Regions from separate parts of the Homo sapiens genome. Here regions 2 and 3 are each linked to region 1. The links come from fine-mapping of genetic effects on gene expression. A gene starts in region 1. Each other region holds a variant in brackets. All regions are shown on one strand. Distances are from middle to middle.

Region 1 (5,224 bases):
TTTTTTATTGTTTTTTTTTTTTTTTCTTGAGACGGAGTCTTGCTCTTGTCACCCAGGCTGGAGTGCAATGGCACAATTTTGGCTCACTGCAACCTCTGCCTCCCAGGTTCAAGTGATTCTCCTGCTTCAGCCTCCCGAGTAGCTGGGATTACAGGCGCCCACCACCATGCCTGGCTACTTTTTGTATTTTTAGTAGAGACGGGGTTTCACCATGTTAGCCAGGCTGGCCTCGAACTCCTGACCTCAGGCGATCCGCCTGCCTCAGCCTCCCAAAGTGCTGGGATTACAGGCGTGAGCCACCGCACCCAGCCTATTCATTTATTGTCTGACTCCCCTATTGCAATGCATAGTTCATGAAGAAAAAGACCTTCTCTACTGTACTCCTTGCACCTAGAACAGCGTGTGGCACATAGAATGCACTCAATAAAGGTGTTTAATGAACATTTATTGCAAGAAGGAAGAGAAAAACATTTCCCATCTTCTCACTTTCTTCTCTTAGATGCACTCCAACTATTTCCCCCACCACTCCACCAAAACTGGTCTTTTCAATTAACCACTGGATTTATCAACATGATAAATTCTCAGTTATTTCTCAGTCCTCACCTTACTTGACCCATCAGCAGCATCTGACCCAGCTGGTCTACTTCCTTCCCCAGAAACACTTTCTTCACGTGGCTTTCACTCTTAGTTCTTAGCTTCCCTCCTGCAGTACTGATCCATCCTTCGTTTGTCTCCTTTGCTGGTGCAATCTTATTTTCTCGGCCTCTTAATGGTTAGCCTGCTCCAAGACTCAGTCATTGAGATTCTTCTGTCAGTCCATACACACTTCCCTAGTGAGCTCATCTAGTCTCACGACTACTCTTAGGCATTTCAAACTCCTCCAAAACCAAAGCCAAATTTATCATTTCCCCCAAAACCTTCTCCTTCACAGCCTCTGCCATCCCAGTAAATACCACCATCCCTCCAGTTACTGAAGCCAAAAACTCTTGGAGTCAACCAACCCTCATTTTATAAATATATTCCAGGTCAATGATCACTTCTACCATGTCTGCTACCACCCGGATCCAAGTCACCATCATCTCTCGCCTGATAATTGCTTGTCCCCTGTTCCCTTACATTCTACTCTCAACACAGCAGCCAGGGTGATCACGTTTAAAGGTAAATCAGCAAGTTCAACAGCTAGCCAGAGTGAAAGTCTCACACAATTTGGCCCCCTGAAACCTATTTGCCTCTTTGTTCCCTCCACTCCGGAAACACAGGCCTCCATGCCCATCTTAAAGCAAGTCACGCAAGCGTCCATCTCAGCCTTCATGCTGGCTGAAAGGCTCTTCTGGCTGAACTGAATGAACCAGGCTTCCTGAATTAGGCATTTTCATGAAATGCTGTGTCACTTAATTCTCTAAACTCTGTGAGGTAGGTATCACTTCCCCCACTTTACAGATTAAGAAAGTAAGGTTTACAGGGCATCTAGCTAACAAATGATGGAGTTAGGGTTAAATCCAGATTAGTCTACAGAGAAGGTGAGCTCTCAGTGAAGTTTCTGGAGGCTAAACAGAGGATTCAGTGATGTTCCTCTGAAGTCACAGTGATTTTAACAGCTAAAGGTGTGTGCTAACAACTGGTGAAGAATATGAGAAAAGGCAGTCAAAGAGATAAAAGAACCACAAGAGGAGTCACCCAAGCCAAAAGTGGAAAGTTTTAAGGAAAAGAGGGGAGAGGGGAAGTGTCAAGTGGAACCTAGACACCAGAAGCCCAAGAATCAAGCGTATACCTCATAACAAACCACACTTGTGGTAGACAGGAACCCAGATCTTGATTTAGAAAGAAAGAAAAAAAAGCCAGGCACAGTGGCTCATGCCAGCAGTTTAGGACGCCAAATCGAGAGGATCGTTTGAGGCCAGGAATTCGAGACCAGCCTGGGCAACACTGCCAGACCCCAAAAATTTTTTTTAAAAATGTAGCCGGGTGTGGTGGCTCACACCTGCAGTCCCAGCTACTCAGGAAGCTGAGGTGGGCGGATCGCTGGAGCCCGGGAGATCGAGGCTGCAGTGAGTCGTGATCGCGCCACTGCACTCCAGCTTGGGCAACAGAGCAAGACCCTGTCCGGAAAAAAAAAAAAAAAAAAAAGGATCTATCTTCTCCTGCCAATAACGGTGCCCAGAGCTATCCTACTAGGTATTGCCACTTGCCCGCGGCAAGCGTGAAGACAGGCTGTAGGGAAGCATGTGACTAAGCAACACGGCTTCACACCTACGTTCTCCTCCGGGCCAGTAAAGCAAAGTGTGTGAGTGTGCGGTGGTAGCCTGACCTTAAACTTCCCACGGCAAAGATGCGGACCCTGAGCGGGCACGTGTGAACACGGCTCTCTACCCCGCAGTCTCTAGGAGACCAGGAGGTGGCGGAGTCTCGGCCCTTACCCCGAATTCCTCCAACAACTTTCCGCCAATGGCCCATTCCTCTCTGCCCCACAGTCATGACAGTGGACCCCAACCCACACTACCTCCCTCTCAGACCCATCCCTCAGGCATATCCCGGGACTGGCCCCCGAGAAGCCTTATAACCCGTTGCGGCCCGGGCGTAAAGACCCCGTCTCACCACGGCTCCGGCCACGGCGTGGACCAGGCTTTCGTAGGACAGCACGGAAGCCATTGGTGCGGCTCCTCGAAGACCCAGCCACACTTTTCCCACAGATGCCGCAGCCAGTGGAGTTAGGAAAGGAGCACCGGAGCTCAGGGTGTGAGAGTCGCAATCCCCGCCCTCTCAAACCCGCCCGCCTGCCCTAGAACCACTTCCGGGTCGCGGGGCGGGAAAGCGGGGGGGGGGGGGCGGCTAAGAACGCCCCTGAACGCTGATTGGCCCCTGTGGGCGCGGGGCGGGACAGCGAGGTGTTCGCGGGGCTGGGCTCCAAGGCGCAAGGCGGCCTGACACCAGGTACCCGGCTCCCGGTTCCTCCGACGTTCTCTGGCGTTCCCGGGCCCTGACCAGTTCCTCCATCTCAGAAGTCTTAATGGCCTTCTTTTACTCTGGTGACAAAGATGGGGAAACTCAATGAGACTCCAGTCTCCCTGTTTCTCTGCGCCTGAGCTCTTTTCTATTCTGAAAGTCACATTTTGGCCAAGAGGAAAAAAACTCACTTGTGGACTTGGAAACTTCTTCCTCCAGAAAAACCCTTGAGTGTGGTGGGAAGAGATGTTGAGCATCAGGAGCCCAAAATACAAGACGCGAGTGGGAGCCTCCCCCTAGTTGGCAACTATGGAAGTCATTTAACCTCTTGGGTTTCCTCTGTGAAATGACAATGTACTAGTACCAACAATCCCCATCTGCTGTGAGGATTACGAAAGCCAATTTATGTAGTAGTACTTCATAAAATACTGAAGGAAAAAAATTTTTTTCCATGTTGCAAAGTGACTAACAAAATTACACAAAACTAAAGCAGCCACATTCAGCTTTAACCTGTCATACTGTGAGATTCTGCTTCAGGATGCTCCTCAGGGACTCAGGGATTCTTTCCTGAGACACCATCACCACTTGTCTTTACCATGTTTCCTTTTAGAATATCCTCGTGATAACTCCTCAGTGCTGACTACATGCCAGGCTTAGTGTTTTATGCCCATCATCACACTTAATCCCTGGGAGAGGGGTCTAACAAAGTTTAACCTGGCCGTTTTCACAAAATTTGCAGAAGATACTGCTTCCAGGAACATTCCCATCACGCCATAGAATCATGACGTGAAAGTGAAGGACCAAAAGTGAAGCGAAGATGATTTTGGGCTGGGCGCAGCGGCTCAGGCCTGTAATCCTAGCACTTTGGGAGGCCGTAGCGGGCAGATCACTTGAGGTCAGAAGTTTGAGACAAGCCTGGCCCATATGGCAAAACCCTGTCTCTATTAAAAATAGAAAAAATTAGCCGGACATGGTGGCACGCGCCTTGTAGAAATTACAATGTTGAAACTGCAGCTACTAGGGAGGCTGAGGCAGGAGAATCGCTTGAACCCAGGAAGCAAAGGTTGCAGTGAGCCAAGATTGCACCACTGCACTCTAGCCTGGGACAGAGTGAGACTCCTAAAAAAAAAAAAAAAAAGATTATTTTGGCATGGGAACATAGAAACTAGTTGGCTGTAAAACTTGAGAACTCAGTTCTCATTGACTCCTGATCAAATTGGGAGCTTGCTGTCAAGAATATACTGGATTATGCATCATAGTTATGAAAACATTGTTAATACTTTGTTTTGACGTTTTTGTATCTTACATACCAAAAACATTTTGATCAGCTTTTTTTTTTTTTTAAACCTGAGACAGTGTTTCTCTGCGTTGTCCAGGCTGGTCTTGTACTCCTGGGCTCAAGTGATCCACCTGCTTCAGCCACCCAAAGTGCTCGTATTACAGGCATGAGCCACTGTACCGGGCCTTGCAACCTTTTTTTTTTTTTTCAGATGGAGTTTCACTCTTGTGGCCCAGGCTTGGCTCACTGCAACCTCCGCCTCCCGGGTTCAAGTGATTCTCCTACCTCAGCCTCTCGAGTAGCTGGGATTACAGGCATGCGCTACCACGCCCAGCTAATTTTTGTATTTTTAGTAGAGACGGGGTTTCATCATGTTGGTCAGGATGGTCTCAAATCTCTTGACCTCGTGGTCCGCCCGCCTCGGCCTCCCAAAGTGCTGGGATTACAGGTGTGAGCCACAGCGCCCAGCATGATCAACTGAAGACTGACATACTGAAAACAGTATTTTTTTTTTTTTTTTTGAGACGGAGTATCGCTCTGTCACCTAGGCTGGAGTGCAGTGACGCGATCTTGACTCATGTTAGCCTCCATCTCCCGGGTTCAAGTGATTCTCCTGCCTCAGCCTCCCGAGTAGCTGGGACTACAGGTGCACGCCCCCATACCTGGCTCATTTTTGTATTTTTAGTGGAGACAGGGTTTCACCATGTTGGCCAGGCTGGTCTCGAACTCCTGACCTCAGGTGATCCACACACCTCGGCCTCCCAAAGTGCTCAAATTAGAGGTGTGAGCACTGCACCCAGCCAAAGTCATTTTCATATAATCAGTATGCACTGAAAAACGTAGACACTGCATAGCTACATCAGTTATTAACTGGAACTATGAAGCTGTGATGTTCGAGACACACACATACATACATATATATATACACGTATATATATATATATACGTATATATATATACGTATATATACGTATATATATATATATATATATATACACACAT
Region 2 (5,196 bases), 140 kb after region 1:
CAAGAGCCTAATTTGCACTTGGCATAGAAAGACCAGGTCCCTGCTCTGTGGGAGCTTTGAGTTGAGGGGGAAGGAGGGAGGTCAGGTATGTAAAGAGATACTCATAATTGATGTGTTAAGAGTGCCTGAAGGAGAGGAAAATGACTCAGGGTGGAAGAGTCAGGAAAAGCTTCAGTCAAGAAGTAGGGATTTAAGCTGGGTCTTGAAGGGTGGGGAGGACTTGAGAGTGATAGGAGGAGGAGCATGTTCCAGGTATGGCAGGGACGAAGGAAAGGACTCTACCGTGAAGGGAGCCTGAAGGGTTCTTTAGGTTAGTAGTGCCATGGCCACAGTCAAAAGAAAGACCCAGATCAAATTTAAACACGATAATGTACCTTGAAACAGTTTTGATTTTCACTTTAATAATTGTGGCTCTTATTTAGCTAATTTTATAATACATAGTCTTCCTCTAAGTTAGAGGATCCAGCTTAAAGGACATCATATTTACTTTTCTCTGCCATTCTTTTAATTATAGTAGTGTATTCCAGTTTCAATAAGTTCTTAAATACACTGCATAGACCCTAGATCCCTTTTTTGTTTGTTTTTAAGATGGAGTCTCGCTCTTTCACCCAGGGTAGAGTGCAGTGGCGCGATCCCAGCTCACTGCAACCTCTGCCTGCCAGGTTCCAGCGATTCTCCTGCCTCAGCCTCTCTAGTAGCTGGGATTATAGGCATGCGCCACCCACCACACCCGGTTAATTGTTTGTATTTTTAGAAGAGACAGAGTTTCGCCATGTTGGCCAGGCTGGTCTCGAACTCCTGACCTCAGATGATCTGCCTGCCTCGACTTCCCAAAGTGCTGGGATTACAGACATGAGCCACCACGCCCGGCCGAGCCACCGTGCCTGGCCTTTTTTTTTTTTTTTTTTTTTTTGATAACAAGGTTTTGCTCTGTCACCTAGGCTGGAGTGCAGTGGTACGATCATGGTGCACTGCAGCCTCAACCGCCTGTGCTCAAGCCATTCTCCTGCCTCAGCCTCCTTAGTAGCTGGGACCACAGGCATGTGCTACCACAACTGGCTAATTTTTTTATTTCTAGAGATGAGATGTTGCTGTGTTGCCCAGCCTGGTCTTGAATTCGTGGGCTAAAGTGATCCTGCTGCCTTGGCCTCCCAAAGTGCTGGGATTACAGGTGTGAGCGACTGTGCCTGACCCAATTCTTTATTTTTATTTTATTTTATTATTTTTATTTTTATTTTTTGAGACAGAGTCTCGCTCTGTTACCCAGGCTGGAGCGCAGTGGTGCGATCTTGGCTCACTGCAAGCTCCGCCTCCCGGGTTCACACCATTCTCCTGCCTCAGCCTCCTGAGTAGCTGGGACTACAGGTGCCCGCCACCACGCCTGGCTAATTTTTAAATATTTTTAGTAGAAACCATGTTAGCCAGGATGGGCTCGATCTCCTGACCTCGTGACCCACCCGCCTCAGCCTCCCAAAACGCTGGGATTATAGGCGTGAGCCACCGGGCCTGGCCCCAATTCTTTATTTTTATCAGTTGGCAAACCAAGTTACTCTGTAGTGTGAATCTGGCTAGCAAAAGTAAGTGCTTTGCTTTCTCTGTGTGTGTGTGTGTGTGTGTCAGCCTTACTCTGTCACCCAGGCTGGAATGCAGTGGTGTGATCTCGGCTCACTGCAGCCTCTGCCTCCTGGGTTCAAGTGATTCTCCTGCCTCAGCCTCCTGAGTAGCTGGGATTACAGATATCCACCACCATGCCTGGCTAATTTTTGCCTTCTTAGTAGAGAGGGGGTTTTGCCATGTTTGCCAGGCTGGTCTCGAACCCTGACATCAAGTGATCCGTCACCCTCGTCCTTCCAAAGCATTGGGATTGCAGGCGTGAGCCACTACTCCCAGCCTTTTATGGTTTGTTTGTTTGTTTGTTTGTTTTTTGAGACAGAGTCTTGCTCTTTTGCCCAGGCTGGAGTACAGTGGTGTGCAACTTCGGCTCACTGCAACCTCTGCCCCTTGGGTTCAAGCAATTCTCCTACCTCAGCCTCCCAAGTAACTGGGATTGCAGACATGTACCACCATGCACCACTAACTTTTGTATTTTTAGTAGAGATTGGGTTTTGCCGTGTTGGTCAGGCTGGTCTCGAATTCCTGACTTCAGCCTCTCATAGTGCTGGCATTACAGGTGTGAGCCAACATGCCCGGCCCACTTTCCACATTTTCGAAGAGTGAAAAGAAAAAGGTATTATCATGGTATCTCTTCCCCTAAAACCACACATGCCCATTAACATCTAGTTTTGTTTTTTTTAATAGTTTTACTTTTTTTTTTTTTTTTTTGAGACAGAGTCTCACTGTGTCACCCAGGCTGGAGTGCAGTGGCGCAGTCTTGGCTCACTGCAACCTCTGCCTCCCGGATTCAAGCAATTCTTCTGCCTCAGCCTCCTGAATAGCTGGGACTACAGGCGCCCACCACCACACACACCTGGCTAATTTTTATTTATTTTTTTATTTTTATTTTTATTTATTTATTTTTTGAGACGGAGTCTTGCACTGTCGCCCAGGCTCCAGTGCAGTGATGCAATCTTGGCTCACTGCAAGCTCCGCCTCCTGGGTTCAAGCAATTCTCCTGCCTCAGCCTCCTGAGTAGCTGGGACTACAGGCACCCGCCACCACGCCCAGCTAATTTTTTTTTTTTTTTTTTAGTAGAGACGG[T/G]GTTTCACTATGTTGGCCAGGATGGTCTCAAAGTCCTGACCTCATGATGTGCCTGCCTCGGCCTCCCAAAGTGCTGAGATTACAGGAGTGAGCCATCGCGCCTGGCCTACTCCTGGCTAGTTTTTCATATTTTTAGTAGAGACAGGTTTCACCATGTTGGGTGGGCTAGTCTTGAACTCCTGACCTCGTGATCCGCCTGCCTCAGCCTCCCAAAGTGCTGGGATTACAGGTGTGAGCCACCACGCCCAGCCATAGTTTTACTATTTTTCACCTGTAGTAGTTTGAAGTAATTCTCCCCTATTAAATAGTTTCTCCTGAAGCTTTTTATTCTTCAGAAGGGAGACTCCATTTAGTTACTATGATCAGAGAAAGCAAGTTATGCATTAGTAATTCTTGTTCTGTGAATATTTATCCCCAGTTGTGCTTTACCCATCAGATCTTGATCTCAGTCAAGAACTCATTGCAGGCCAGGTGCGGTGGCTCATGCCTGTAATCCCAGCACTTTGGGAGGCTGAGGTGGGCGGATCACCTGAGGTCAGGAGTTTGAGACCAGCCTGGCCAACACGGAGAAACCCCATCTCTACTAAAAATACAAAATTAGCCAGGCATGGTGGTGTGCGCCTGTTAATTCCAGCTACTTGGGAGTCTGAGACACGAGAATCGCTTGAACTCGGGGGGCGGAGGTTGCAGTGAGCCAAGATTGTGCTATTGCACTTCAGCCTGGGCAACAAGAGGGAAACTCCATCTCAAAAGGAAAAAAACTCAGTCTAGGCAACATGGTGAAACTCCATCTCTACAAAAAATACAAACAATTAGCTGGTGTGGTGGCACGCACCTGTAGTCCCAGCTACTCAGGAGGCTGAGGGAGAATCACCTAAGCCCAGGAAGTCAAGGCTGCAGTGAGCCATGCTCATGCCACTGCACTGTAGCCTGGGCAACGGGAGTGAGATGTGCATTTCCCATTTGTTACTCTTTTTAAACAAGGATAGGAAATCGTCAGAAAGCATACTGTTATCTCTGTCTTCTCTGTTCTTCCTTTCCCACATTCATTAAAAAACAATTATGGCTAATTAACCACTTGAGAATTGTTTTGGCTGCTATAGATTGAAACGTTGCTGCTCCCAAGGTCCAGTGATCCTGTTGCTCTTGTTCCCACAGGCATAGAATGTCAAGCTAACCAGGCGTCCGCTACTTCAGAAGAGTGTACTGTCGCATGGGGAGTCTGTAACGTAAGGAAGCATCTTTACCTGTCAGCATGGCTTGTAAACATATTTCCACTTTTCCTGCTTTGCTAGTCTTGAAAATAACTAGGGAAAAAAATGACTAGTCCACCTTTCTCCCAAAAGGTATACAAATAGTAAAAAAGATTTTAAATCATAATACTATTCACCTGTTACAGGGTAAAAATTACAGTTACTGCAAAGAGGCACTTATTTGTCTTAATTATAAAGTGGACCCAATTTTGTTAGCAGTATTTTGGGGCTTCATCTATGGGAATTGCCTTCAAAACCTACATGCACCCTTTGGAATATTCTCGTGGTAGAACTTTGTACCTTTGAAACAGGCTTTTTTAAAGACCAGGTGTCTAATGGAACTAAGTTTGATGAGTAAATTGAGTGTTGAAGTCTCTGTGTATGTGTGTTTTAAGTGTGGCGTATGTACTGAGATAAGATTATTTTTTAACATGGCTTATGCCAGAAATGTTTTGTGTAGCTTTATTGGACTGAATGGCCTTCCAAGAGTGTGACAGCTGTGAAGGATAACAAATATCAAATATGTTAGTTCTAGCATGTGTTAAAAATTCATTCTTTAAGCTGTAAAGTCCCAGTCACATGAGCTAAAATTGTCTTGTCAGGGCCTCCTGTGTCATGGGGACAGAATACTCACAGTTCCCAGCATGACACAGGGATAAGAGATTCTAGAGTCAGACCACCATTCCCTGTCTTTGTGACTTACTTGCTAAGTGACGTTAGGCAAGGCATTTAACGTCTCCAATCCTGGGTTCCCTCATAAAATGGGGCTGATAGTGGACCACATAAAATTGTAATCCGGATTAGATGATTTATGTTAAAATGTGATTAAACAACTCCCGGCACATAGTAAGCACAAGTGCTTGTTAAAAAAAATCTAAATAGGCCGGACGCGGTGGCTCACGCCTGTAATCCCAGCACTCTGGGAGGCCGAGGCGGGTGCATCATGAGGTCAGCAGATGGAGACATCCTGGCTAACACAGTGAAACCCCGTCTCTACTAAAAATACAAAAAATTAGCCGGGTGTGGTGGCAGGCGCCTGTAGTCCCAGCTACTCGGGAGGCTGAGGCAGGAGAATGGCGTGAACCTGGGAGGTGGAGCTTGTAGTGAGCCGAGACCACACCACTGCACTCCAGCCTGGGTGACAAAGTGAGACTCTGTCTCAAAAAAAAAAAAATCTAAATAAATACAAATTTGAGGTAGAGGTGTTACTGTGTAGATGGTGTTCTCAGTAGTTTTTCCTGTTGGG
Region 3 (5,224 bases), 190 kb after region 1:
TTCCCTCAAGCTGGGAGAATCATCCCTGCCCTGCCTTACTCTTGGGCTGGTGTGAGGATCAAGTATGACAGTGGAGAAAAAATAGTCGTAGCAGTGCTAACAACTCCACGGCCTGATCCTGAATATCCAACTGCCCGTTAGATATATTCACGTGCATGTTTAACTGGGATCTATATCTCTTTTTTTTTTTAAGATGGAGTCTTGCTCTGTTGCCCAGGCTAGAGTGCAGTGGCACGATCTCGGCTCACTGCAACCTCCACCTCCTGGGTTTAAGCAATTCTCCTGCCTCAGCCTCCCAAGTAGCTGGGATTACAGGCGCCCACAACCACGCCTGGCTAATGTTTATATTTTTAGTAGAGATGGGGTTTCACCATCTTGGCCAGGCTGGTCTCAAACTCCTAACCTCAAGATCCACCCACCTCAGCCTCCCAGAGTGCTGGGATTACAGATGTGAGCCACCACACCTGGCCAGCATCTGTATCTTAATACATCCAAAATTGAGCTCCAGGCCAGGCACAGTGGCTCACACTTGTAATCCCAGCACTTTGGGAGGCAAAAACAGATGGATCACTTGAGGCCAGGAGTTCAAGACCAGCCTGGCCAACACAGTGAAATCCCGTCTCTACCAAAAAATAAAAAAATTAGCTGGACCTGGTAGCACACACCTGTAATCCCAGATACTCGGGAGGCTGAAGCAAGAGAATCACTTGAATTTGGGAGGCAGAGATTACAGTGAGCCGAGATCACACCGCTGCACTCCAGCCTGGGCAGTGACAGAGAGAGACTGTCTCAATAAAACAAACAACAACAACAACAAAAACAGAAAAAAATTGAGCCCCTGATTACCCCACTCCCAAACCTCTTTCATGTCCAGCCTAGCCCGTTTCAGTTGGTGGCAACTCATTCCTTACATTTTTCAGACTCAAAACCCTCCAGCCATCCTTGGCTCTCTCTCATACTACACATCCAACCCCTCAGGAAATAAAGCTATATATATATATCCAGAATCCGGAAGCTGAGGCAGGAGCCTCAGGAGCCTCGCTTGAGCAGGAACCTTAGGAGGCAGGAGGCTTACTTGAGCCCAGGAGTTCCAGGCTGCAGTGAGCTATGATTGCACCACTGCACTCTAGCCTGGGTTACAGACTGAGACCTTGTCTCAAAAAAAAATATATATATATGTGTGTGTGTGTGTGTGTGTGTGTGTGTGTGTGTGTGTGTGTGTGTATCCAGAATCCAACCATTTGTCACCACCACTGCTACCCCCTTGGCACCTAGTACTGAATTCTCTCTGCCCCTCTCTCCCCTTGTTCTTTACAGTCTATGCTCATCCAGGCAGCTGGGGTTAGCCTTTATTTTAATAATCTAAAGCTGGGAGTGGTGGCTCATGCCTGTAATCCCAGCTCTTTGGGTGGCCAAAGCAGGTGGATCACTTGAGGCCAGGAGTTCAAGACCAGCCTGGCCAACATAGCGAAACCCTTCTCTCCAAAAAATATAAAAAATTAACCAGGCATGGTGGCATGCTCCTGTAATCCCAGCTACTTGGGAGGCTGAGGCACAAGAATTGCTTGGGCCTGGGAGGCAGAGGTTTCAGTGAACCAAGATTGCACCACTGCACTCCAGCCTGGGTGACAGAGCAAGATTCCATCTCAAAAAAAATTATTATTATTATTATTTTTTTGACACAGGGTCTCACTCTGTCACCCAGGCTAGAGTACAGTGGCACAATCATAGCTCACTGCAGCATTAAACTCCTGGACTCAGGTGATCCACCCACTTCAAATTCCCCAATAGCTGGGACTACAGGTGCACATTACCATGCCCAGCTAATTTTCAAAAAATTTTTTGTAGAGATGAGGGTCTCGCTGTGTTGCCCAGGCTGGTCTTGAACTCCTGGCCTCAAGCAATCCTCCCACCTCAGCCTCCCAAAGTGTTGGGATTACAGGCATAAGCCACCATGCCCAGCCCCTGAGTTACATTTTAAAGGCTAACCCAGCCTGGGTGACAGAGCAATACCCTGTCTCTGAAAATAATAAAAGAAGAAAAGACTAATAACCCAAAATGTAAGTTAGATTGTGTTGTTTCTATGCTCAAAGCCCTGCCGTAGCTTCTCTTTACTTGGCTGGTGATGACCTACGTGATATGGCCACTTTACCTCTGACTTCATCCCTGTCACTTTCCCTAGCTCACTCCACTCCATCCACCCCACCTAAAGAATTTCACACTGGCCTGCTCCTTCTGTGCAAATACCCTTTCCTGAGATATGGCACATCTGTCTCCCTTCCTGCCAGTCTTTCTTTTTATTTTTTTATTTATTTTTATTTTTATTTTTGAGATGGAGTTTCGCTCTTGTCACCCAGGCTGGAGTGCAGTGGCATGATCTTGGCTCACCACAACCTCCGCCTCCTGGGTTCAAGCAATTCTCCTGCCTCAGCCTCCTGAGTAGCTGGGATTACAGGTGTGCGCCACCACACTCGGCTAATTTTGTATTTTTAGTAGAGACGGGGTTTCTCCTTGTTGGTCAGAATGGTCTCAAACTCCCAATCTCAGGTGATCTGCCTGCCTTTGCCTCCCAAAGTGCTGGGATGCCATGTGAGCCACCGTGCCCAGCCTATTATTAATTTTTTGAGATAGAGTCTCATTCTGTCACCAGGCTGGAGTGCTTGGTGCAATTTCCACTCATTGCAACCTCCTGGACTCAAGCGATTCTCTTGCCTCAGCCTCCTGAGTAGCTGGGACTACAGGTGC[A/G]CACCACCACACCCAGCTAATTTTTGTATTTTTAGTAGTGATGGGGTTTCACCATGTTAGCCAGGCTGGTCTCGAACTCCTGACCTCAAGTGATCCACCCGCCTTGGTCTCCCAAAGTGCTGGGACTGCAGGCATGAGCCACCATGCCTGACCCCAGTGTCACTTTCTAATGCGGCCTTCTAATAGGGCCACCCTATTTAAAATGACAACCCAATCCATCCTTCTTCCTCTGCATCCCCTCCCCCACTCTATTTTCTTCTTCCATAACATCTTTCACCTTCCAATGATACTTCATTTACTCTTTCCTTGTGTTTATTGTCCCTCTCCCTGGCCTGAACAGAAACCCCATGACAGAAGGGTCTTGGCATGTTTTGTCCAGTGCCTAGAAAGGACCCTGCATGTAGTAGGCACTTGATACATATTTGTTGAATTAGTAAACAATACTACTAACAATGATGTTGGCCGGGTGTGGTGGCTCATGCCTATAATCCCAGCACTTTGGGAGGCCGAGGCAGGCAGATCACGAGGTCAGGAGATTGAGACCATCCTGGCTATCACGGTGAAAACCCATCTCTACTAAAAACAAAAAAAAATTAGCCGAGTGTGGTGGTGGGCGCCTATAGTTCCAGCTGCTGGGGAGGCTGAGGCAGGAGAATGGTGTCAACCCTTGAGGCGGAGCTTGCAGTGAGCCAACATCATGCCACTGCATTCCAGCCTGGGTGACAGAGCGAGACACTGTCTCAAAAAATAAATAAATAATAAATACATAAATAAAGTATCACAAAATATTTTTTAATTAAAAAATAAATACTGGTGACCATTTATTAAGCCCATTACCCACATGCTCTACAAGCATTCCATGTAAACCTCATAAGCAAGGTGGAATTTTTTTGCTTCCATTTTACAGTTAGGGAACCTAAGGCAGATGGTGTTTTAAGCGACTTGCCCAAATCAGCAGAGCTAGCTCCATAGCAGGGAAGGATTTGAGCCCAGGTTTTTAGTTGCCTTTGGAACTCTTGGTCTTTTCTACTTCGCTCAGTGTTCACTGTAGCTGCATGTAACATGGCTCACTCATTCATTCACTTGTTCATTTAGTAAATATTTCCCAAGCCTCCTCCATCCCTCCGCCACCCAAAATGCCAGGCCCTGTCCTGCACACTGGGGACCCATACATCCATGGGTCACGGACCTTGCCCCAGAGGAGCTCTGGTCCCACGGCCTGGGCAATAAGTGTCCCTGTGGGCTTCATTTTTGTTTTCTATTTTTTAAGAGACAGGGTCTTGCTCTGTTACCCAGGCTGGAGTATAGTGGTACCATCACAGCTCACTGCAGCCTCAAACTCCTGGGCTCAAGTGTTTCTCTTGCCTCAGCCTCCCAAGTAGCTGAGACTATAGGCATGCACCTCCACGCCTGGCTAAAGTTTTGTTTTGTTGGTTTTTTTTTTTTTTTTTTTTTTGAGCCTCTATGCCCCAGGCTCAAGCAATCCTGCCTATGTTGCTCAGGCTGACCTCACACTCCTGGGCTCAAGCCATCTTCCACCTCAGCCTCCCAAAGTGCTAGGGTTACATGCATGAGCCATCACATCTGGCTCCCACGGGGGGTTTTGTAAACTGAACAAAGGGAGCTCCCTTTCCCCAGCAATTCATCCCTGGAGTCCATATGAACCAATGTTCCTCATTTACAGCAGAAAAAGCAGCTTCCCATGCTCTAACCCCTGCCTGCTCCTCAGCTGAATGAGGCTGACAGGTGCACACCCTGCAGCATCCTGCACCTCACCAGGTAAACAGGCCTGAAAGAGGGAGGCCATGGGTGTGGGCACAGGCTCAGGGCCAAGCTGACCTCGCAAAGGCTGAGGGGCGGGAAGAACAGGAGGAAGTGTGGGCAATGGGGAGCTGCTGGGTCTGGAGCAATTACCATTGCCACATGGTGAAGACACCAGCCCAGAGGCTGACCTGGGGCTGAGCAGAGCCCAGCAGTAGGGTAGGAAGGGGCCCACCCTTGCTCCTCCAGCTCCCTTTTCTCCCCACCCCTCAACCCCAAACTCTGTCCCTCCTCCTCACTGCCCTGCTGTCAGTTCACCTCCTTTAACCCTTTCCTCCCGTGCCTCCCAAGGAAAAGGGGAAACTAACAGGCCAACTGATCTTCAACGGCCATGGAGCTTCGTTTCTTAAAAATTCATTAAGAGGCCAGGCGCAGTGGCTCATGCCTGTAATCCCAGCACTTTGGGAAGCCAATGGAGGTGGATCACTTGTGGTCAGGAGTTCGAGACCAGCCTGGTCAACATGGTGGAACCCCGTCCCTACAAAAAATACAAAAACGCGCTGGGCATGGTGGTGCATGCCTATAATCTCAGCTACTCGGGAGGCTGAGGCAAGAGAATCATTTGAACCTGGGAGGCGGAGGTTGCAGTGACCTGAGATTGCATCACTGCACTCCAGTCTGGGCGACAGAGGGAGATTCTGTCTCCAAAATATAATAA

Alleles and levels. Positions count from the first base shown, and alleles are read on the strand shown. Sizes are in standard deviations (SD) of each study's normalised expression.
For the expression in prefrontal cortex of the gene that starts at base 2,747 in region 1, T is the high allele of the variant in region 2 and G is the other (small effect, 0.28 SD a copy in BrainSeq).
For the expression in tibial nerve of the gene that starts at base 2,747 in region 1, G is the low allele of the variant in region 3 and A is the other (small effect, 0.21 SD a copy in GTEx).

The links. PIP is the estimated chance that this variant, and not a neighbour inherited with it, causes the effect. A credible set is the group of variants that fine-mapping cannot tell apart.
Region 2: its variant is the best candidate, but not a certain one, in a credible set for the expression of SLC25A17 in prefrontal cortex (BrainSeq, PIP 0.50).
Region 3: its variant is the best candidate, but not a certain one, in a credible set for the expression of SLC25A17 in tibial nerve (GTEx, PIP 0.86).

The regions. Positions count from the first base shown.
Region 1 is chr22:40,816,600-40,821,823 of GRCh38, forward strand. It overlaps SLC25A17 (solute carrier family 25 member 17), which reads right to left and starts at 2,747. Exons shown (of 9, transcript NM_006358.4): 1 at 2,596-2,747. The coding sequence starts at 2,649. RefSeq lists an enhancer at 720-779.
Region 2 is chr22:40,960,192-40,965,387 of GRCh38, forward strand. RBX1 (ring-box 1) reads left to right here. Exons shown (of 5, transcript NM_014248.4): 3 at 3,856-3,926. Among named protein-coding and RNA genes, the nearest start is that of RBX1, 11 kb to the left of the region's middle. The variant T/G (reference allele first, on the strand shown) is at 2,698.
Region 3 is chr22:41,005,095-41,010,318 of GRCh38, forward strand. No RefSeq gene overlaps it. Among named protein-coding and RNA genes, the nearest start is that of RBX1, 56 kb to the left of the region's middle. The variant A/G (reference allele first, on the strand shown) is at 2,746.